7 linked regions of the Homo sapiens genome follow. The protein of the gene in region 4 purifies or fractionates together with the protein of the main gene of each other region. This does not show direct contact. Each region holds a gene or a part of one and is shown on either strand. Other genes may lie near its edges. The genes, in order: SOAT1, TMEM214, SERINC1, ASGR2, SLC38A9, PARVG and TIMP3.

Evidence for each region.
Region 1: the proteins of ASGR2 (region 4) and SOAT1 purify together in Homo sapiens (affinity purification with mass spectrometry; 4 studies listed by BioGRID and IntAct, with this or other methods). This does not show direct contact.
Region 2: the proteins of ASGR2 (region 4) and TMEM214 purify together in Homo sapiens (affinity purification with mass spectrometry; 4 studies listed by BioGRID and IntAct, with this or other methods). This does not show direct contact.
Region 3: the proteins of ASGR2 (region 4) and SERINC1 purify together in Homo sapiens (affinity purification with mass spectrometry; 4 studies listed by BioGRID and IntAct, with this or other methods). This does not show direct contact.
Region 5: the proteins of ASGR2 (region 4) and SLC38A9 purify together in Homo sapiens (affinity purification with mass spectrometry; 3 studies listed by BioGRID and IntAct, with this or other methods). This does not show direct contact.
Region 6: the proteins of ASGR2 (region 4) and PARVG purify together in Homo sapiens (affinity purification with mass spectrometry; 3 studies listed by BioGRID and IntAct, with this or other methods). This does not show direct contact.
Region 7: the proteins of ASGR2 (region 4) and TIMP3 purify together in Homo sapiens (affinity purification with mass spectrometry; 3 studies listed by BioGRID and IntAct, with this or other methods). This does not show direct contact.

The regions. Positions count from the first base shown.
Region 1 is NC_000001.11:179,300,297-179,303,796, reverse strand, and holds part of SOAT1 (sterol O-acyltransferase 1), read right to left. Parts: intron 1,121-3,500; 5' UTR 1,113-1,120; coding exon 995-1,112; intron 1-994.
Region 2 is NC_000002.12:27,039,080-27,042,194, reverse strand, and holds the end of TMEM214 (transmembrane protein 214), read right to left. Parts: coding exon 3,031-3,115; intron 2,455-3,030; coding exon 2,358-2,454; intron 2,166-2,357; coding exon 1,997-2,165; intron 1,851-1,996; coding exon 1,699-1,850; intron 1,485-1,698; coding exon 1,358-1,484; 3' UTR 501-1,357; downstream 1-500. UniProt on the Homo sapiens protein: Critical mediator, in cooperation with CASP4, of endoplasmic reticulum-stress induced apoptosis. Required or the activation of CASP4 following endoplasmic reticulum stress.
Region 3 is NC_000006.12:122,447,808-122,451,307, forward strand, and holds part of SERINC1 (serine incorporator 1), read right to left. Parts: intron 1-3,500.
Region 4 is NC_000017.11:7,108,323-7,111,822, forward strand, and holds part of ASGR2 (asialoglycoprotein receptor 2), read right to left. Parts: intron 567-3,500; coding exon 450-566; coding exon of another isoform or gene 414-449; intron 236-413; coding exon 140-235; intron 1-139. UniProt on the Homo sapiens protein: Mediates the endocytosis of plasma glycoproteins to which the terminal sialic acid residue on their complex carbohydrate moieties has been removed. The receptor recognizes terminal galactose and N-acetylgalactosamine units.
Region 5 is NC_000005.10:55,628,837-55,632,324, forward strand, and holds part of SLC38A9 (neutral amino acid transporter 9), read right to left. Parts: intron 1-3,488.
Region 6 is NC_000022.11:44,201,425-44,204,924, reverse strand, and holds part of PARVG (gamma-parvin), read right to left. Parts: intron 1-3,500. UniProt on the Homo sapiens protein: Plays a role with ILK in promoting the cell adhesion and spreading of leukocytes.
Region 7 is NC_000022.11:32,860,705-32,863,541, forward strand, and holds the end of TIMP3 (metalloproteinase inhibitor 3 precursor), read left to right. Parts: 3' UTR 1-2,337; downstream 2,338-2,837.

The sequences.
Region 1 (3,500 bases), on a different chromosome or scaffold from region 4:
CTCCCCAGTATTGGCTCATCCTCCTTTGCATAAATTTCACATTTTATATCACACTAAAACTAGCCCATATGCCATATAAATATGTCATATATAGCTAACTAAGAGCCTATCAATAAACCTCATTATGCCAACTCAAGCAGCAATGTTTACATTCCTGGTGGGATCCAGCTGTTGATATTTAAGTTTAATTAAATTTAGGTAGGAAAAACAAAACTGTTTCTTTATGAAAAGAGATGAAATGCCAAAGACAACCTGTCTCAGAAGGTTCCGCACCTATTTGTTAACTAAACAATCCTCAATTTTCAAATCCTTGTTGAAATCAAACCTTTACAAATGTCACTGCAAAAATTAATACCCTGATGCAATAGATGACATCAATTAGAGTTGTGTTTACAAGTCTATCATTCATAATCATAAACCTTGACCTTAACAACAAAGGACTATCGTATTCCTCTTTGTAGTCAGGCATTAAGCAAACGTGGATACAAGAACTAATAAAACTCCCTAACTACTCCTCTCCCAAGATTTATAGCTCAGTATTGAACTGGGTTAGGCACCCTGCTAATTACTCACATTTTACTCATTACATCTATTATGAAAGTAGTTAATTACAAGAATATTACACTGTGATAAATCTAGTTATGTGTATGATTTTGGAGGTTTTGTCATTCACTTAACTTGGAGCTCCATAATGGCAAACAAATCCGTACTGATCACTGCTATAGCCCCAGCATCCAGCGGGGGACCTCAGCAATTATTGGTAGGTTACGTGACTGAATGAATGGTCTCTAAAACACAGCAGATACCAATAGATGACCACCAAATTAATTAACGAGAAAGGACTTATTGTCTAATTGCTTTGTTACTAGACATATAAAACTCTATCAATACCCATTTACAATAAAGAATTAAAGAGATGGCAATACTTATTCTATAACACTGTATTTGTTCTCTATTTCACTAATTCACCTAAAAAAAAAAAATTAAGCCTCACCATTACTAGGTGTCTCTAGGGACTCCTTTGCAGGGTTTCTCTGGTCTTCATCTTCCTCAGGATTTTCCCTGGACTTTGACAGCCGGTTTCTTAGAGACATCTTCTCTTCACCCACCATTGTATTGTCTAGGAAAGAAGGTGTAAAAAGCTTTCGTATTAGTCCGTTTTCACACTGCTATACACTACCTGAGACTGGGTAATTTATAAAGGAAAGAGGTTTAACTGTCTCACAGTTCCGCATGGCTGGAAAGGCCTCAGGAAACTTACAATCATGGCAGAAGACCAAGGGGAGGCAAGGCATGTCTTACGTGGCGGCAGGAGAGACAGAGCAAGGAAGTGCCACATTTAAAACCATCAGCTCTCATGAGAACTCCCTCACTATCACGAGAACAGCATGGGGGAAACTGCCCCCATGATCCAATCACCTCCCACCAGTTCCCTCCCTAGACACGTGGTGATTACAGTTAGAGATGAGATTTGTGTGGGGACACAGAAGCAAACCAATATATCAGCTTTGAACTAAGCATCTGGCTTACGTGAATTTCACAATACCACTATATTTAGGAGAGGTGAAATGTGATGATACATTCTCTTCCTTTTGCATTAATCATTTCAAAGCATTTTCTGGGTACAAGATACTCAAGATAACAAATCTGAAGAAATCAGGTCCTATAAAATAATTGGAATGGTTTTGAAGCCCCTTTTTAAACATAGACCCCACTCTTAAAGAACAATTTAGTTGAACAAAGCATTAAGTATGTAAAAAAAAAAAAAAAAGGATTAAATAGTAACAGGTAACTACAAAGATGCCACAGGGTGGAGTATGATTTAATAACAAAGTCAATGGTAAAAACAATACCTTAAGTTCAGAGACAGCAGAGATTAGCAGAAGATGTAAAGGTTTCACAGAAAAGAAGGTATTTTAGACACAGTCTTGAAGGATGAGAACTGTGCATTCCATGTGCAAGAAAGGATTAAAACAAGGACCTTATAAGCCCCGTTCAGGGAACCATGAAGGAATTGAACTACGACAAAAACAAGTTTTTGTTAAGTATCTACTAAGTGCAAGGACCCTGCCAGATGCTTTAAGTTTTCTCATTTAATCTTCATAACAATTCTGAAAAAAATTACCCTCAGTTTTCACATGAGAAAACAATGATTTAAAGTAGTTACTATCAGTGTCCTCCACCCATGTACCAGGAATACACCTGCAGTTGAACAAGCTGAATTTATAGGAATGCACACCACAGCCCCAGGTACTAGAGTCTGCTTTTCTTCTCATTACAGTAACTTGCCCAAGACCACACAGCTAACGACAGAGCCCGATTGGAACTGGCATTAGTTGGATCCAAACTACAAAGACCACTAACTACTGGGGGAAAATAGTTGGTAATGGAGAAATGTGATGAGGGAAAAGACTAGAAAGGAGGACAGGAGTCAAACTATAAAGGCCTAAGAAATTAGAAGTTTTTCAGGAAGGCAGTGGTGAGACACTTTAAGCACTAAAAAACATGATCAAAGATCAATATCAAGATAGTACAAGGTTTACTCTAAAGCCATGTGTTTCCCTAGTTGGGCATGGTGGCACACAGCTGTAGTCCCAGCTACTTGGGAGGCTCAGGCGGGAGGATGACTTGAACCCAGGAGTTTGAGTCTGGCATGGGAAACATAGCAAGACCACATCTCAAAATTATTTATTTATTTATTTATTGAGAAGGAGTATCGCTTTGCCCAGGTGGGAGTGCAATGGTGCAATCTCGGCTCACTGCAACCTCCGCCTCCTGGGTTCAGGCAATTCTCCTGCCTCAGCCTCCCGAGTGGCTGAGATTACAGGTGACTGCCACCACACGTGGCTAATTTTTGTATTTTAGTAGAGACAGGGTTTCACCATGTTGGTCACGCTGGTCTCGAACTTCTGACCTCAAGTTATCCGCCCGCCTCAGCCTCCCAAAGTGCTGGGATTACAGGCATGAGCCACCGCACCCGGCCAAAAAAACAATTTTAAATAAAAAGTAAAGCAGTGTTTCACTATGTGATAAAGTTTTCAAGAGTCTAAAGCAAGAAGAAAACAACTGTGAAATACTCATTACATTATTTTAAAGCTATATATATTTAAATTCTGAGACTACAGTTTTTCTTAATTTTTGTACTAAAATATCCTTTTCTGTATAAAAGGATGAAATATAGTACATGGTGGGTTTGGTTGTTTTTCAACTATCACAGCTTGGCAAAGTAAAAATCTGACAAATCTAGATCGGCTTTCTTCTAATTATTTCTGAAATCAAACAAATGAAACAATTGTGGAACAGCAGATGAATATATCAAGTAGAAATGTTATGATATCATAAGATCTAATTAAGAGGAACTTAAGGGAAAAGTCAGGGCTAATAAATCACAAGACGATGCCCAACTTACAATGGTCCAATTCTGTGTAAAAGTGACAGAGGAAGCCACAAGAGCATCTATCTCTTCATCAGAAATGATGAGAGAAGTAAGAACTGAAAAC
Region 2 (3,115 bases), on a different chromosome or scaffold from region 4:
CTCTAGTACTGCTGACTTGAAACATTTAAGGAAACAAAATTGAGAACTAAGAAACCAGCAGAGTTATCTAACTCCTTATAGTCTCAAGTCAAAAATAAAAAGGGGCTTCGGTGATAAACCTTGGACTCATGTGTCCCTTGGAGTTCTAAATCTTTCACTCACTGCTCTATAAAATGAAGGTCCTGGCAAGGAAAGGACACCTCCTGGTCACTGGCCAAGAATTCCCCTAGGAGACGGCCCCCTGCTTTTCTAAGCGTAAAACTATCAAGGCAAATCTGGGACGTGAATCACAGTGACAAGTCAGACACTATAATTAGGGTAGCAAGAGAAGTGTCTAGAACACCCACCAGGTCAAACTTTAGAACCATGTGTGTGGGCTTCCCCCACCAGGAGCTTAATTACAGCCACGGCTACAGTCTTCAGGAGGGCAAGGGCCCAGGATTTTGTTATTCTGAACCATAACTAGGGGAATTTCTATATGAGGATGCAGACAAGAATGCTAGAAATCAAATCTGTGTCCTTTATTCCACCTGGTAGGGCATACCCAAGAACCATATACTGAGTCCTGTCTCAGGTTGATGGAGGGTTCCCTGGGCCCAAGGCACACAACTGCCTGTGCTCTGCTCTACAGATGATAGGAGGGATGGACAGTGGAGAGAAGCTGAGCCTTGTGACCAAGACCCCCAGCATGATGGGGAATGGAAAGTTGGAAGAAGTAGGACTACAAGGGAGGGGACAGGGAGGGGCTTAGAGGCATTTGGGGCAGGCTGGGCATTTTGAAGTGAGAGGCATTTCCATCCAGCTCCCCATGTCCACTGACAGCCACACCCAGGCTTCAGGTGGAGGTGAGGCTGCTGTTTCCCAATGCGGTGCTATATTCTTCTGGAAGCCCCTTTCCTTCTGCTGTGGCTAGAGCTGTGACCAAGAATGGGAACAGGAGGCTGCTAAAGTCTGGAGAAGCAGGAATCATTTGTCAGAAGAACACAGAAGCCACCTGCTGGGAGTTCTATCTTTTTAGAGATGAGCTGTTTGGGGTTTAGAAATGAGATGGAAGGAAGTGGAAGGCAGAGGGCAAGGGCGGAGTTGTGAGAGGCTACCAGCACAAGGATGGAGGCTGGGGGCCATGTGCAGTAGGGCCAGAAAAGTGTTCAGTGGAATTGTGGGTAGGAGGCTGAGATGCTGCTGGGCCCTGTCCCCACCAAAGATGGAAGAACTGAGGTGGAGGCAACTGGCCACTTGCCTAGGAGAGAACTCAGGCACCAAGTTAAAAAGACTCCCATGAAGAACTGCCACCTTCTACCCGCTGCAGTCTTGGATGGTCTACCCATGCAGAAATCAGTGGCCAGGAAGGCAGGGCCTACTGCTGGGATATCAGGGCAAGTGCCCAGTCCAAGAAAGCCACTGTAATGTCCTGTAGGCAAAGCCAGGTCCAGTGGACAGCCTCACTGAGCTGTGTCTTCATGCAGTCCCAGGTCACCTCACCTCTGGAAGGAAAGTGGAACATTTTTGAGTATGCACGTGAGTAGCTGTGTCAACTTTCGGGGATGAAAGCTTAGACCCACAACCCTCATCCCAGGGTGGCCAGGAATGGGAGCGAGGGGCAGGACAGTGTGGGAGACTGGATAGAGATGGCTTGTCCCTGGGGCCCGGGAATGGGGCTGCTGGGGATCCTGCCGGAGCCCTGGGCAAAGGTCTCACCTGCATGCCTCATGGCAGTGCTCCTGGGCCCAGGCCAGGGCCTCAAGCAAGAGGTGCCACAGTGGCAGCAGCACATTCTGGTGGAAAAGCAGGGGCAGCTCTCTCAGATAGCGGAGTAGCTGATTCACGGAATCGGGGAGCTGGATCTGTAGCTGGACCATGGAGAATGGATGGGGTCAGAGTATCCAGGGAACTGCATCCTGGCCCTAAAGACTCAGGCCACACAGTGCTGCTCCTTTCCCAGAATTCTGCTCCTGGGAAAACCAGCCCCTTATTTGACTCCCTGTCTCTGACTTACCCTCTGAGAGAGACTGGTGAGACTGTCACCAAACCACGCAAGGTGAGAGGCACAGTGGGCAGAAAGGAAGCTGACTGTGGCATTGGTGTGAGCCCAGGCCAGCTGCAAGCTGGGCCGCACCACGGTGAGCAGGTGGGAGCCCCAGAGCGGCAGTGTCTCCCCCAGCCAGCTGTGGAAGATGGAAGTGGGGGAAGAGGGCTCTGAGTCTCCTCAGGCCCACTTAGCTCCCAAGAAACAGCTGGGGAAAGGGAGGCCGTGGGAAAGGAGAATCACAAGCGCTTCCCACTGACTGTCGCCTCCTCCCTGACACCCAGGCCTTCTCTCTTCTGCCTCTCCTCTCCCCTCCCTGGGAGGAGCTCACCTGTAGCCTTGCAGACTGTAGGAGTAGAGCTTGGCACACGCTTGTTGGCTAGCAGGTAAGAAGCCAGATGATCGAAGCAACCGGCCAGTAAGGGAGGCTAAGTAAAGGGGGCCTCTGGTGAGCTGGGAGGTGAGAGGGGCAGGGACTGGGGAGACAGACACTACAGGGCCCAGAGCAGGCACAGCGAGGCGCTGGGCAGAGCTTTGTGTTCTCACAGGGCCACAAAGCCAGCTCCAGGCTGCTGTGGAGGGAGGCATGCAGAGCTGCCCTTCTCCTGCTGGGCCAGGTGTGCAGGAATGCAGCTGCCGGTTGGAGCCTAGGCTCAGGCTTCAGGAAGCCTCAGGTTGAGGGTCTGCCCTTCTACTTACTAGCTATGACCTAAAGCTAATTGCTACATCTTTCTGAGACCATTTCCTCAGGAGTTAAAAGGAGGTAACACCTACTAAAATGATACTATGAATATGCAAGCACTTCTATACTGCGAAGTCCTAGTCCAATCTGAAATGGTAGTGTCATATCTGTGGACAAAAAAATCTGTCTGTAAAGTGTTTACTCTGCAGGATTGAGAACTCGTCAGGACAAAGATGTGTGCTGCTGGGGGCGGGGTGGTGGTGCTACGTGTAGCTCTGTGCCCCGCCCACACCATCCTCCTCGCTTGCCCATTGCTGCTTACCCTGGAAGGAGCTGTGTGACCGGAGGTCATGGCACAGGAAGCCTACAGCGAAGACCAGCAGCAACAGGAGGAGCCGCGTCCAGGG
Region 3 (3,500 bases), on a different chromosome or scaffold from region 4:
CTTATTCTTTTATAAAGAAGAAAGTAGGCAAGGTGCGGTGGCTCATGCCTGTAATCCCAGCACTTTGGGAGGCCGAGGCGGGCGGATCACAAGGTCAAGAGATAGAGATCATCCTGGCCAACATGGTGAAACCGCTTCTCTACTAAAAATACAAAAATCAGCTGGGCGTGGTGGCATGTGCCTGTAGTCCCAGCTACTCGGGAGGCTGAGGCAGAAAGACTCGAACCCGGGAGGCGGTTGCAGTGAGCCGAGATCATGCCACTGCATTCCAGCCTAACGACAGAGCGAGACTCTGTCTCAAAAAAAAAAAAAAAAAGTAGGATTGCTAAAATATTCACTAAAGTGTCTAAAATACATATTTTTCTCCTGCAAAGCCAGATCTGTCAAACTCCATCTTACTAATGAAAATGATTCTTACCTTAAAGCCAATTAGGTAAGGCTATTTCCTTCTCTAAAGCAAACTACTAATAATTTTTTTCTAACCACCTACCTGGAAAAAAACAGGAAATCTTTGTGTAATACATCAAAACAAAAAAACAAAAAATAAATTGGTCTCCAAGTTATAAAGTACCTATGATAAAATACCTACAGTTTGTAAACTCAATGAGATTCATATAACATCAGATAAATTTTTTAGGAAAAGAGATCATTTTCTTCTTTTTAATAGGTAATAATTTTTGTCTATTCTAATTTGTCTCCTTTCAACATATGTTTCTATTCTCATGGTATGCAATATAACTAGCCTATAATAAGATGCATTACAAAGCCCAATTATCAAATTCAATTGTAAGGTAGTCACAGGCTAAAAGAGTAATTTAATAATGTGAAAAAATTATACTGTTCACAATTGAATCAACAGGAATTTGAAGAGTTTTTCTTTCTATATACGACAATTATATGCTCTATGCAAATCAGATACCTTTCTTATAATTTCACCCAGTTTCTTACATAGACATACCTTGTTTTACTGTGCTTTGCCTATTTTTTTTTTTTTTTTTTTTTAGCATTTTACAGATACTGTTCTTTTTACAAATTGAAGGTTTGTGGCAACCCTGCATTAAACAAGTCTATTGGTTCCATTTTTTCTAACAGTATGTACTCACTTTGTTTCACATTTTGGTAATTCTTGTAATATTTCACAATTTGTCATTATTATTAATTACATCTGTTATGGTGATCTCTCATCAGTGACCTATTATGTTACTATTGTAATTTCTTTCGGGCACCACAAATCACACCCATATAAGATGGTGAAATAATCGACAAACATTGTGTGTGTTCTGACTGCTCCACCAACCAGCCATTTCCTTGTCTCTATCCCTCTCCTTGGGCCTATTTCAAGACACAACCATATGGAAATTAGGCCAGTTAATAACCCTGCAATGGCCTCTAACTGTTCAAGTAAAAGAGTCCCCTTTCTCACTTAAATCAAAAGCTAGAAATGATTAAGCTTAGTTAAGAAAGCATGCCAAAAGCTGAGACAGGTCAAAAGCTAGGCCTTCTGTTCCAGTTAGCTGAGTTGCGAATGCAAAGAAAAGAAAAAGTTCTTGAAGGATATTAAAAGTGCCACTCCAGTGAACACAAACACACAAATGATAGATAAGAAAGCAAAGCAGTCTTATTGCTGATATGGAGGAGAAAGTTTTAGTGACCTGGATAGAAGATCAAACCAGCAGAGCATTCCCTTAAGCCAAAGCCTAATCCAGAGCAAGGCCCTCTCTCTCACTTCAAGTCTATTAAGATTGAGAGAGAGAAGGAAGCTGTAGAAGAAAAGTTTGAAACTAGATGGGGTTGGTTGTTGAGGTTTAATGAAAGAAACTGTCTCCGTAACATAAAAGTATAAGGTGAACCAGTAAGTGCTGATGCAGAAGCTACAGCAAGTCATCCTAAAAATCTAGCCAACAAAATTAATGAAAGTAGCTACACTGGTCAGGCATGGTTGCTCACGCCTGTAAGTTCAGCACTTTGGGAGGCTGAGGCGGGTGGATCACCTGAGGTCAGGAGTTCGAGAACAGCCTGGCTAACATGGTGAAACCCAATCTCTACTAAAAATACAAAATTAGCTGGGTGTGGTGGCGCAGGCCTGTAATCCCAGCTATTCAGGAGGCTGAGGCAGGAGAATGGCTTACCAAGGAGACAGAAGTTGCAGTGAACGGGGATTGTGCCATTGCACTCCAGCCTGTGCAACAAGAGTGAAACTCCATCTCAAAAAAATAAAAATAAGAAAAAAGAAAGCAGCCAAACCAAACAACAGATTTTCAATAAAGACAACATAGACTTCTATTGTAAGAAGATATAATCTAGGACTTTCATAGCTATAGAGAAGTCAGTCAATGCCTGGCTTCAAAGCTTAAAAGGACAGGCTGATTCTCTTGTTAGGGACTAATGCAGACAATGATTTTAAGAGAAAGCCAATGTTCTTTACCATTCCAAAAATCCTAGGGCCCTTAAGAATTATATTAAGTCTATTCAGCCTCTCTATGAATAGAAAAAAGCCTAGATGACAGCACATCTGTTGAAAGTATGGGTTACGGAATATTTTAAGCCCATTGTTGGGACTTACTGCTAAAAGATCCTTTCAAAATATTACTACTCAATGACGATGCACCTGGGTCACCCAAAAGCTCTGATAGAGATGTACAGGGAGATTAATATTTTCATGTCTGCTAACACAGTATTTATTCTGCAGCCCATGGAAAAAGGAGTAATTTCAACGTTTAAATCTTATTATTTAAGAAATATATTTTGTAAGGCTATAGCTGCCATAGAGTAATTCCTCTGATAGATCTGGGTGGACAAAGTAAACTGAAAACCTTCTGGAAAAGATTCACCATTCTAGATGCTATTAAGAACATTCATGATTCATGGGAAAAAATGTCAAAATATCAACATTAACAGGAGTTTGAAAGAAGTTGATTCTAACCCTCATAGATGACTGAGGATTTCAAGACTTTAGTGGAGGAAGTAGCTACAGATACGGTGGAAAGAGCAAGAGAACTAAAAAGTGGAACCTGAAGATGTGACTGAATTGCTGCAATTTCATTATCAAGCCTGAATGATGAGGTGTTGCTTCTTATGGATGAACAAAGTAGTTTTTTGAGATGGAATTTACTCCTGATGAAGATGCTATGAATATTATTGAAATGACAGCAAAGGAGTTAGAATATTACATAAACTTACTTAATGAACCAGGAGCAGGTTTAAGAGGATTGACTCCAATTTGGAAGGAAATTCTACTCTGGGTCAAATGCTATCAAACAGCATCATATGCTACAGAGAAATATTTTGTGAAAGGAGGAGTCAATCAATGGGCAAACTTCATTGTGGTCTTAGTTTAAAGATACTAAAACAGCCATGCCAACCTGCAGCAACCAACACCCTGTTCGGTCAGCAGCCGTCAACATTGAGGCAAGACCTCCTACCAGCAAAAAGATTACAACTTGATGAAGGCTCAGATGACTGTTAGCATTTTTTGGAAATAAAGTACTTTCAAATTAAGG
Region 4 (3,500 bases):
CCTATACATCCCCCAGGGCCCCTGGACGCCTTGCCCAGCCTGCACCCCCACGGCACCCCACACAGCCCTGTTGCAGACTCGGCACTGAGCCCAGCAAACCTGTGCGGATAAATGAGAACCCAGCCGTCCAGCCCCTCACCGTGGGTGCTGATTGCCTGGACCTCCGTCAGGGTGCTCGAGGAGAAGTTGCTGAAAGCTTCCTTCAGGCTCCGCAGCTCGGCTTGCAGCTGTGCACCTTGTCAGGTGGTAGTGGGGGCAGGATGAGGCAGAGGGGCCGTGTCCCCATCACTGTCCATGTGACTGGCCCCTCAATGTCCCCGCATTTGCCCCAGCTTGTGCTCCACCCCGCCTCCATCCCTTCCCCTCCCATCGCCCCGATCGCTGCCCGCCACTGCCCATGTCTCTTTCCCTACCCCTTGCCCATCCCTGCTGGCCCCCGTGACCCTCACTTTGGGACCCAGTCACACAGATGACCACCAGCAGCAGGATGTTGAAGCTCAGGGCAAGCAGACTGAAGCAGACCATGGAGCAGAGACGCTGTGCCAGGGGCTGGGCAGGAGGTGGCCCTGTGGGAGAGGGGCATCAGGAGCCGGCAGCCTGGGTGTGGGGAGCCGGAGGGTAAAGACAGGGCACCGAAGCCTGAGGAGGCATAACCTGGGCGGGGGGATTGGTTGGGGCCATGGGGGGGGGTCATCATAGGCTTTGACCCCAGCATTTGAGCATTACACACACACTCTTACACACTCGCACCCATATTACCATGTATAAATATACACACGCAGCTAATCTGGTGCACACACACCCATGCACACGACTCAGGATATTCACATCAGCTGTGTGCAAAGCCCGGATCCTGGAGCTGGGGGACTGGGAGACGCACAGGGGGCGGGGGGGCAGACCCGGCCCTGCCTAGGCACACATCCTGAGAAGGGGGATCTGTGAATGGTTTTCCTCCCATCCAGCCAGTGGCAGAGGCCTCCAGATCACCTCGGGCCTTAGTCTCAGCTCTTCTAAGGCTCCTGTCCCCTCAGATTGGAGACTCCAGAAGCTGGGCCCTGTGTTCTTCCTAAAATCCATACTGGAACAGTCCCTCCCCTGCCAAAATTCCATTGAGATCCTTAAATCTGGGTCATTCCACCATAGCCCACTCTCCAAGCACAACCCTCCAGGTCCCACCTGTTGTCCTCATCCCCCACCACGCAAGGCCTCCTCCCCAGCGCCCTTTGCCCTCGCTTCCCTAGAAACCTCGTTCCACACTAAATTTGCTCCCCTCAGCCCGAGGTCATCTCACAGGTACCTCTCCTGCCCCTTGATCCATCTGCACCCTGACAGCACTGACACACACATTCACATGCCCTCACAAACTCACACACACTCACACACTCACACATTGCTCACTTCACTCAAAAACACACATTTGCACACACTCATGACCACGCTCTGCTGTACCCACTCTCACATGTGCATATGCATGCTAATGCACACATTCATACTCCCTCCCACACACACACACCTGACACACCCACACACGTACACTCACACACCCACGTCTTCCTGCACACAGAGCTGGGCTCCCTCTCTGCTGCCTCCAGACCCAGAGCAGCTCCAGTTGTCCCAGCCCTGAGCTCCTCTCTTTGCAGCATCCACCTGCAAACAGAACACCTTCTAGGCCTTGGACCCTGACTCTGTGGACTTCCTTGTCTTCTCATTCCTATCACCCCCCGACCCAGCAGGACCACATCCTGGGGAGGCTCAGTCAGGGGCCCAGAATCTTCCTCCCCAGGTCACTTCCTGCCACTGTCCTGAGTCAGACACTGCCCCTGTAAGTGACTGTCCATAACTCTTCATCTTTTTCACACCAGTGACTTCCACCTTCCCCACTGCAGCCACACTCAGGACCCCATTTGACCCAGGGAGGCCTCTGACACCTCCACTGCCCACTCCCGCTCTGAGCACAGCCCCACCCTCCCTCTCACTGCCCCCACCCCTTCCTCCAAGGCCTTTGCATTCCTCTCCATCCAGAAGCGCTCCATGACCACGGTGTTCCCCACCAAGCTGGCCCTCCATGGCTGAGTCCCTGACTGCTGTCTTCAGCACCCTCCACTCAGAGGGTCCTGTCCTGCTTCCCAGTCCGACTTATCAACTCCCAATGCTGGGTCAGCCCAGCAACGTGTCTGTATATCCACCCTGAAACCAGACTGCCCACAGGGTAGCCCAGCTGTGCCTCCAGGTAGCTCTGAGATCATGCACCAGCATTCAATTTCTCCATGCTTCCATTTTCTCGTGTGTAAAATGGAGATCACAGTCGTAGCTACCCGATTGGATTGCTCGGATAATTAGATGAGTTAAAATATGTAATGTGCTTCTTAGGCAAAAGTTTGAACATAAAAGACAGGGTCTGCCCAAGATGGGAAGAGTTCTTCTCTCCCCAGAAACAATCAAAACAAAAACAGACAACTATAGAACATGGCAGCTTTCAAGACTCTGGACATCAGGCAAGGAGGAGTAAAGATCCCTGAGGGATAAGAAGCAAACAACAGGAACCCTCCGATCACCCCAGCTTACTGTTTGGAGAGAGTCTGCAGGTTACAGGCCAGGAAAGGGAAGTCCAGGCAGAGCCCAAGAGACTCCCCACGTTGAGGAGATGGAGCTGAGAGTCCGAGGAGACCAAAACAATTAAGAGTTCAAACGATCAAACTGACTCTAAGTTGCTTAACTGCATCCCGGAGCAAAGCTCAAGAACATTTAGAGGAATACAAAAATATCCAGCACCCAACAAGGTGAAATTGACAATGTCTGGCAGCCAATCAAAGATTACAAGGCATGCAATGAAACGGGAAAACACAATGCATAACGAGGAGGTTCATAAATATCAAAAGAGATCCAGAACTGACACGGATGCTAGAATTAGCAGGCAAGGATGGTAAAACAGATATTATAGCCATATCCCATTATGTTCAAAAAATTAAGTAGAATTGTGGAGGATATTTAAGAGTCCCCAGGTGAACTTCTAGAGATAAAAACTACAATGTCTGAAATGAAAAAACACACTGGCCAGGCGCCGTGGCTCACGCCTGGAATCCCAGCACTGTGGGAGGCCAAGGCGGGCAGATCATGAGGTCAGGAGATCGACACCATCCTGGCTAACATGGTGAAACCCCATCTCTACTAAAAATACAAAAAATTAGCCAGACGTGGTGGCAGGCGCCTGTAGTCCCAGCTACTCGGGAGGCTGAGGCAGGAGAATGGCATGAACCCGGGAGGCAGAGCTTGCAGTGAGCCAAGATCGCGCCACTGCACTCCGGCCTGGGCAACAGAGCGAGACTCCGCCTCCAAAAAAAAAAAAAAGAAAAGAAAGAAAAGAAAAAACACACTGGATGGAAATAATGGAAGATGAGAAATGCGTAAGAAAAATTTAGGGCCAGGCACTGTGGATCACATCTGTAATCCCAGCACTTTGGGAGGTCGACACGGGGGGAATCACTTGAGCCCAGGAGCTC
Region 5 (3,488 bases), on a different chromosome or scaffold from region 4:
GAAAATTTGATGCTGAAGAAAGAACTCCATTTCCCCTGAAAATGATTCTCAAAAGCCAAATGTACACATCAAAGCAACCCTTTGGGCCCAAGTCATCAGAGGTTAATTAATCCCAGATAAAGATTACAGAGAATTAGAAACAAAGAAAATTATTTATATAAATAAGTGGTTAGTCATATACCCTGATGAATTAGAAAGATATTAGGGCTTACAGATCTTACTGTTTACCCAGAAACTCTAACCTTAAAATTGCTTCAGAGCTTTGAGGTATTGGCTGGGCTTTTGTTATTTCTGCATTATAAACGGAAACAACTTTGTATACACAGAGGGAGGCAGTTGCATCCATCTGTATTCCTTTTCTAAAATTTTAATTAATTATTATTATTTTTTTAAGAGACAGGGTCTTGCTCTGTCATCCAGGCTGCAGTGCAGTGGGGCAATAATGGCTTACTGAAGGCTTGAACTTCTGGGCTCAAACCAACCTCCTGAATAGCTGGGACTACAGGTGTGTGTCACCATGACCGGCTAACACCCATGCTTTCTATACTCTATTCTTTAATGCCAAACACTCTCCAAAGTATAAAAAAAGTCCTTGATAAAGGAGTAGAACATTAATTTTGCTAAATCTCATGTTTGAATATATATCCTTTAAATATTCTATGTGATCAAATAGGAAAGTCATAATAAAGCACATCTGCGCGTACTGCAGTACAGTACGCTGGAAGTCTTGAGGAAAAGTACCTGTGTGGCTGAGCTGAAGGGGACCTAGCTGTTTTGCCTACCAAATGCTACTTTTACTTGAATTGCAGTCAAACTATGGTCATTCAAACTCAGGTGTTTGACAGAGATTTTCCAGAAAAATGAATTATATAAGCTTGTCACTTATATAATTCAAGGAAAACAACTGGCAGTATTTGTTGCCAAAGATAAAATTAAAGTTTTCAAATAAAAACTAGAATTTTGGAAAACTTGTATTTGCTACCCTGAGCTTGACAGTTTCCCAATGTTTAAAGGCTCTTGTGATGAAATTAGTGATAGTATTAATGAAAGTGGGTTTTGATATTGTAAAATGAAGTGTGTCAACATTTGGAAGATCCACAGAACTCAGTGAACCAATATTTTCCAAATGATCAAACAGATGTTACAAAATCATGCATGCGTAAAAGATCCAAAGTGCACGATAGACCAATTGGTTTTAATGTAAACAAGTTTCAGATTCCACGATGCAACTCATAAGAAGCTACCACTCGTCAGGTTTTGGCACAGTATCAAAGAAGAATATCCACAATTATATGAAAAAGCTATTAAAAGTACTCCTTCTTTTTCCAACTATCTATGTGAGGCTGGATTTTCTTCACAAATCTAAACGAAAACAGGATATTATAACATGGAATGCAGAAGTAGAGAGGAGAATCAATTGTCTGCTAGTAAAACAAACATCAGAGTTTTGCAAATGTAAATTAAAGGGTTTTTTTGTTTGTTTGTTTTTGTTTTTTTTTGAGATGGAGTCTCGCTCTGTCACCCAGGCTGGAGTGCAGTGGTGCCATCTTGGCTCACTGCAACCTCCGCCTCCTGGGTTCAAGCAATTCTCCTACCTCAGCCTCCCGAGTACCTGGGATTACAAGCGCCTGCCACTACGCCAGGCTAATTTCTGTATTTTTAGTAGAGATGGGGTTTCACCATGGTGGCCAGGATGGTCTCGATCTCCTGACCTCATGATCCACCCGCCTTGGCCTCCCAAAGTGCTGGGATTACAGGTGTGAGCCACCACGAACGGCTAAATTAAAAATTTTTTGAAAGCAGTTATTTTTATTTTTTTAAATTTTGGTGGGTACATAGTAGGTGTATATATTTATGGGGCACATAAGATGTTTTCATACAGGCATGTAATACATAATAATCACATCATGGAGACTGGGGTATCCATCCCCTGAAAGTGTTTTTTTACAAAAATGTTACTTATGTTAACAAGTAATGGTTTTATTATTGATTTTAAACAAATTAAAAATACTTTGCTGGGCACGGTGGCTCATGCCTGTAATACCAGCACTTTGGGAGGCTGAGGCAGGCAGATCACCTGAGGTCAGGAGTTCAAGACCAGCCTGCCCAACATGGCGAAACACCATCTTTACTAAAAACACAAAAAATTAGGCAGACATGGTGGTGGGTGCCTGTAATCCCAGCTACTCGGGAGGCTGAGGTAGGAGAATTGCTTGAACCCAGGAGGCAGGGGTTGCAGTGAGCCAAGATCATGCCACTGCACTCCAGCCTGGGCGACAAGAGTGAAACTCCGTCTCAAAAAAACGAAAAACAAAAAACCTAAATTCTATTTTTTAATATTTAAATACTGATAGCTATACCTGCATAAACTAAAGCTCCTGGAGTCCTCAATACATTTTTAAGAGCATAAAGGGTCCTGAGACCAAAAATTATGCTCCAAAGTATGCACACTCTATAAAGTGCTTATAACTGTCGGATAAATGAAAATGACAATGTGTTCTTGGTGGTAGGGGAAGAACTGTAATGTGAAAACAAAAGGGAAATCTCTGACTTTTTCCAAGAAGAAAAAACATTATTGTAAAGATAGCCACATTCTGCAAAATAATGGTAGAAAACAGGAATAATGTATTTGCTTAGCATTTTTTCATCTATGACTTCACTGTATTTATTTTCTTTGATGAATATAAATACAGCAGAGTAGAAACACAATCAGAGGCTTACATTTATTGAGCTCCAATCTTCTGGATAATAACACTAGAACCATAGCTGCTGCTATACTTATCAGTGCTTGAGACCTGGTAACTCCTGACTTTTGCTTTGTTTTGAAACCAACATATTTATGGCAAAAATTATTTATCGAAGAAGCAGACTACATCAGTTCATTTTAAACAAGAACTGATTAAGACCACTTGTTTAGTTGCTTACTGTAAATGCAATTTTTTTCAAATTTTATTTAAGTTATCTTTCTTTAAAAGAACATATGCCTAATAAAAGTGGACTAGGTTCTTTTCACTAAGATGAACCTATAAAAAGACTTAATGTAAGGGTAGGAGTTAACCAAAGGTCCACAAGAAGGCTGCTGGGAAACTCTGAAATGACATATAGAAATTTCTCTTGAAAAAAAAAAAGAAATTTCTCTTGGATGAGGGTAACCAGCTTTGAAAAGATTTTCAAAAGAACTCACAACTCCTTCATCCCTAATAAGAGGTTAACAATTATAGCAGTAATTTAAACTTGTTATATATCAAATAAAAATTAATTATATATCTGACCTTCAATTCTAAACAATTGATCATTTATGTAAAATTGCATAAATGTAGGCCGGGTGCAGTGGCTCACGCCGGTAATCCCAGCACTTTGGAAGGCTGAGGCGGGCGGATTACAAGGTCAGGAGATTGAGACCATCCTGGCTAACACAGTGAAACCCCACCACTACTAAAAAATACAAAAAATTAGCCGGGCATGGTGGTGGGCGCCTGTAGTCCCAG
Region 6 (3,500 bases), on a different chromosome or scaffold from region 4:
TCCCTTTCCATTCTAGCTTCTCCCTTGGGCCTCGTCTACAAGCAGAGTAGGTCCCAGCCCTTTGCCTTAGGGCAGCAGCCTGGTGTGGGTGAAGAGGGATGAACTCCTGGTTCACTGTGACCTCAAACAGGTCCTCCCTTCAATGTCTTAGCCACCCGTAGATCCACTAGACGGGGTGGACATCCCAGCCCGGGGGTCAGCTGTGCTGGTCCCGTTCCCTCCCTATCTGCCTGGCCACACCAGCCCCACCAGGACAGGGCAGTTCCCATGGCAACCCGCCAGGGGCCAAGAGGCCAGGTTGGCCGAGCGGTGGATGAGCAAGGCCAGGCAAGACTCATCCAGAAACGCCAGCCTGGCCCAGGCCACCTCCAGCCACCTGCTGGATGGCCCGAGCAAGAGGACTCTTGGGATCTAGCTTGGATGTCTGTGTACTGCCACCCCCATCCCTGCCACTAAGTGTCTGACCTCGGACAAGTCACACATCCTGGCTGGGCCTCAGGTGCCTCATCTGTGTCACGGGGATGATACACCTGTCTGCCTTCCTCTCCAAGGCTGCCATGTGCGTCCAATGTGATGACGGACACAGAATTGAAGCCACAAAGCAAGATTTGAAGGTGAGGATGATGAAGGCATAGGAGCTGGAAGTGGGTGAGCAGAGTCCTTCTCCACGTGGGGACATGAAGATGGAGGGCGGGTCCCAGATGGAAAGGAGTGTATGGGCAGGGTGCCCAGCAGCAGCAGCAGGGCCGCTCCTCTGTAGTCAGCCAACAAGAAGAAACAGGCTAGGCACGGTGGCTCATTCCTGTAATCCCAGCACTTTGAGAGGCCAAAGTGGGCAGATCACCTGAGGTCAGGAGTTCGAGACCAGCCTGGCCAACATGGTGAAACCCTGTCTCTACTAAAAATACAAAAATTAGCTGGGTGTGGTGGCACGTGCCTGTAATCCCAGCTACTTGGGAGGCTGAGGCAGGAGAATTGCTTGAACCCAGGAGGCGGAGGTTGCAGTGAGCCAAGATTGCACCACTGCACTCCATCCTGGGTGACAAGAGCGAAACAAAGGCTATCACACGGCACCAATGTTGCAGCATGCTGCAGGGGCCAATGCGGGGTGAAACTCTGAGACTGTCCAGACCAAGATGGATGGGAAGCTCCGAGTGGACAGACCAGAGCATCACCGGAAGTTCCCATCACTGTGTCCCCAGTTCTTCCTCCTAGACTGGAATATTCTGGGAAACTAGGGTTGCAATTGTTGCTATTGTTCGCATTCTCATCACGAATATTATTTGCAGTTACATGGAGAGTAAATGTCGGAGTGAGAACAAGACCCTGAGGAACCTGAGGTTCCAGACTCCGCACTGTGCTCTCCTGCCTCAAAGCTCCGCCTTTGATACATTCAGCGAGCCAGCATCTCCCAAACTGTGATCTAAGATGGACAGGAAAGGGGATATCTGTGGCCAAACGTTTTTAGAAATTGTTGGATTAAATAAAATACTATGGAAGTCCTTCACTGCAGGACTTATTAGAGCCTTGAATGTGTTGGTGGGCCGCATGAACCTTCAAGACTAGACATGTTTCCCCAAGTTATTTATTCATAGAACCCATTTGTCACAGAACACCTCCTGGGACCAATGTTTTGGAAACACTTCGTTCATTCACTTATTTAAAAAAATACTTGTCATCTACTATGTGCTAGCCATACAACCAGTGCTCAAAACAGACCAGACCTCCTGCCCTCATAGAGCTTATGCTTTGGGAATTGCTATCGACACTGAAAATTATGACATCTGCTTCTGTTTGTCACACTCTTCCTCAATGACACTCAATCTGAACAAAAGATCATCCCCCAGTAAGAGCTGACCCTGGCTCCAGAGCTATCTCATGATGCTCTGTCCAGAGATTTTTCTTCCGCGTGTGGCTTGAGATGAAGATAAAACTACCACCTTCCACGGAGCTGAGAGAAGGTTACAACCCGGGAGGATACGTGCAAATCCTCCTGGGGAAAGTAATTTAACGTGGAAGGACGCCAAGGATTCCTGGCTCCGGGGATTTTATTTCTGGGAGCGAATGATCCTCTCTCCCTCCATCCTTAACTTCCGTGCCCACAATGAATAACTATCTCACATAAACACCATCAGCAAAGAGGGTCTGATAATGAGAAATCCAATTTCAAGAGGCTACTCTGCCAAGATAACAATTCCGCAGAGGCCCACCTTCAGCAAGGGCTGGTGTTCCCGCCCTCCTCAGCTGACGACCTCTTCAGCATTTTGATTACACATTCCTGCAGCAGAGATTGCCCACAATATGCTGTAAAAATTCATTCTTGGAGTCTGAGCTAAGAGGCTGCTGCTTTTCCCCCACATCTAATCTGACTCATATTCAGAAGTAAGTTCTAAAATCAGTGGATTCAGCAAAGCGGCTGCACACAGCAACATGGAAGTCTGCACGTTTGTTCCCGTCTTGTAACTGGGGCTTGGATGGTGCAACAGATTGAGCAGAGGCCCTGCAGCCCAGGGGCACCCCAGAGTGGCTCTGAGCTGGGTTCCGAGCCCCAGGCCCTCAGCCCGCAGGTGGTCCTGCCTGCCCCCTTCCTCCGCCTTCTCTCCTCACCGCTCACATTTCAGTGCCTTGCCTTCCCGAGGCAGGCTCTGACCCCAGTCTCAGCCTTGGCTTCAACCCCACTGAGCCCTGCCACCCCTCCATCTCCCAGAGACTCACATTGGCTCCACAGGAGGGAAACAGGGAGGACCCTAACTCACTGTGTGCTCTGGGCCAGACTTCTGTGCCTCTCTCAACTGTTTCCTCTGTGGAAGTGGGGATGGGAAGAGTTCCTAACTCCAAGACCCAACATGAGGATTTGCTAGCACATTCGTCCACACTGCCCGTGGGAGATCCCACCATCGGCCCAATTCTGCACCCACACACTTTGCAGGGCTGTCCCATGTCACTGTCAAGGCCACAGGGCCTGCTTCGATGGAAGTGGCAGCCTGCCCATTCTGAGCCAGGGCCTCATGCCTTCTGCCTGGTCTCTCATGTGTCTGCCATTGCCAGGAGGAAAGCGTGCCCGGGCCAGCTGCTGGTCCCAGAAGGAACATGGCAGGCTGTGGCACAGAGCCGAGCCACCCAGCCACGACAGCCTGATCCCTATCCAGTCCTCGGAGGAGTGACAAAGCCTAGCTGAGCCTCTAGCAGCTAAACTCAGCCGACCTGCCGGTCTGTGGGAAGAAATGAGCATGGTTTTCAGCCCCTAGGTTTTCGGGTGGTTTGTTAAGCAGCACGTTTGTGGCAATGGCTGGCTGATGCAGCTCCTCCGAATGGAAGAACCTAGGAAGCAGCAGGCACCGTGCCTGCCACAACCACCAGGACCGTAGACACTGACTGCCCCGGCCTCGTTGCTCTGACCCAACATCCCAGCTCTTGGGAACCAAGTCCAGAGCACCTGGCCTCCAGGGAAGGTGGAGGCCACACCCACTCAAGATGCATCCCCGTGGGGGCGAGGGACA
Region 7 (2,837 bases), on a different chromosome or scaffold from region 4:
GGGCCTGGGCACAGGAGGGAGAGCTGCAGAGTGTCCTGCCTGCCTTGGCTGGAGGGACACCTCTCCTGGGTGTGGAGACAGCTTGGTTCCCTTTCCCTAGCTCCCTGGTGGGTGAATGCCACCTCCTGAGATCCTCACCTCTTGGAATTAAAATTGTTGGTCACTGGGGAAAGCCTGAGTTTGCAACCAGTTGTAGGGTTTCTGTTGTGTTTTTTTTTTTTTTTTTGAAATAAAACTATAATATAAATTCTCCTATTAAATAAAATTATTTTAAGTTTTAGTGTCAAAAGTGAGATGCTGAGAGTAGGTGATAATGTATATTTTACAGAGTGGGGGTTGGCAGGATGGTGACATTGAACATGATTGCTCTCTGTCTCTTTTTTCAGCTTATGGGTATTTATCTTCTATTAGTATTTGTATCTTCAGTTCATTCCACTTTAGGAAACAGAGCTGCCAATTGAAACAGAAGAAGAAAAAAAAAAAAAGCAGCAGACAACACACTGTAGAGTCTTGCACACACACAAGTGCCCAGGCAAGGTGCTTGGCAGAACCGCAGAGTGGGAAGAGAGTACCGGCATCGGGTTTCCTTGGGATCAATTTCATTACCGTGTACCTTTCCCATTGTGGTCATGCCATTTGGCAGGGGGAGAATGGGAGGCTTGGCCTTCTTTGTGAGGCAGTGTGAGCAGAAGCTGATGCCAGCATGTCACTGGTTTTGAAGGGATGAGCCCAGACTTGATGTTTTGGGATTGTCCTTATTTTAACCTCAAGGTCTCGCATGGTGGGGCCCCTGACCAACCTACACAAGTTCCCTCCCACAAGTGGACATCAGTGTCTTCTCTGTGAGGCATCTGGCCATTCGCACTCCCTGGTGTGGTCAGCCTCTCTCACACAAGGAGGAACTTGGGTGAAGGCTGAGTGTGAGGCACCTGAAGTTTCCCTGCGGAGTCGATAAATTAGCAGAACCACATCCCCATCTGTTAGGCCTTGGTGAGGAGGCCCTGGGCAAAGAAGGGTCTTTCGCAAAGCGATGTCAGAGGGCGGTTTTGAGCTTTCTATAAGCTATAGCTTTGTTTATTTCACCCGTTCACTTACTGTATAATTTAAAATCATTTATGTAGCTGAGACACTTCTGTATTTCAATCATATCATGAACATTTTATTTTGCTAAATCTTGTGTCATGTGTAGGCTGTAATATGTGTACATTGTGTTTAAGAGAAAAATGAAACCCACATGCCGCCATTTTCCTGAATCAAATTCTGCAGTGGAATGGAGAGGAAAATACTTCTAGGCAAGCAGCTAGACTGGTGAATTGGGGGAAATAGAAGGAACTAGTAACTGAGACTCCTCCAGCCTCCTCCCTATTGGAATCCCAATGGCTCCTGGAGTAGGAAAAAAGTTTAAACTACATTCATGTTCTTGTTCTGTGTCACTCGGCCCTGGGTAGTCTACCATTTACTTCACCCCAAGTCCTGCTGCCCATCCAGTTGGGAAGCCATGATTTTCCTAAGAATCCAGGGCCATGGGAGATACAATTCCAAGTTCTCGCTTCCTCCTTTGGGCATCTCTTCTGCCTCCCAATCAAGGAAGCTCCATGCTCAGGCTCTCAGCTCTCGGGCCAGTGCTCTGCTCTGTCCAGGGTAGGTAATACTGGGAGACTCCTGTCTTTTACCCTCCCCTCGTTCCAGACCTGCCTCATGGTGGCAACATGGTTCTTGAACAATTAAAGAAACAAATGACTTTTTGGAATAGCCCTGTCTAGGGCAAACTGTGGCCCCCAGGAGACACTACCCTTCCATGCCCCAGACCTCTGTCTTGCATGTGACAATTGACAATCTGGACTACCCCAAGATGGCACCCAAGTGTTTGGCTTCTGGCTACCTAAGGTTAACATGTCACTAGAGTATTTTTATGAGAGACAAACATTATAAAAATCTGATGGCAAAAGCAAAACAAAATGGAAAGTAGGGGAGGTGGATGTGACAACAACTTCCAAATTGGCTCTTTGGAGGCGAGAGGAAGGGGAGAACTTGGAGAATAGTTTTTGCTTTGGGGGTAGAGGCTTCTTAGATTCTCCCAGCATCCGCCTTTCCCTTTAGCCAGTCTGCTGTCCTGAAACCCAGAAGTGATGGAGAGAAACCAACAAGAGATCTCGAACCCTGTCTAGAAGGAATGTATTTGTTGCTAAATTTCGTAGCACTGTTTACAGTTTTCCTCCATGTTATTTATGAATTTTATATTCCGTGAATGTATATTGTCTTGTAATGTTGCATAATGTTCACTTTTTATAGTGTGTCCTTTATTCTAAACAGTAAAGTGGTTTTATTTCTATCACACATCTGCTGTCTCTTGCCTTGTTGTGTTCTGACGCCACGGGGAGTTATGTATACACCAGCAGGCCTTGAAAGTCTATCCCCAGCTCCAGGCCTGGACACATCCCTCCCTCCATGCACCGCTATGGCCTGGCCCCACCCTGCTCCAGTCCTTTTCCCTTGCAGAAGGAATCTTAGGAGAGGTGCCCTGCCTTGACTTTGCTCCCTGATTCTATTGCTAGAGTCCTCCCTAGTTCTGCTGAATCTGGATGTATTAATATATCTGTACCTAATCACCTATTGGTGGTACAAGTACCCCCAGACTGGAGTCCTTACTCAGCCCTCCTTGTTTTCTTCCTAAGAATCCCAACCTGGTGGAGGTGGGGAGGGGCGGCCTGCAAACAGCAGTCCTTGATGTCAACTGCCTGCTTGAAATTCCAAGTATGGCTTGGCCTAGTTGGGAACACCAGGAACTCATGAGGTCTCACGACAGCTGGTGACCTTTTCCCAGAGCTTATAACAAC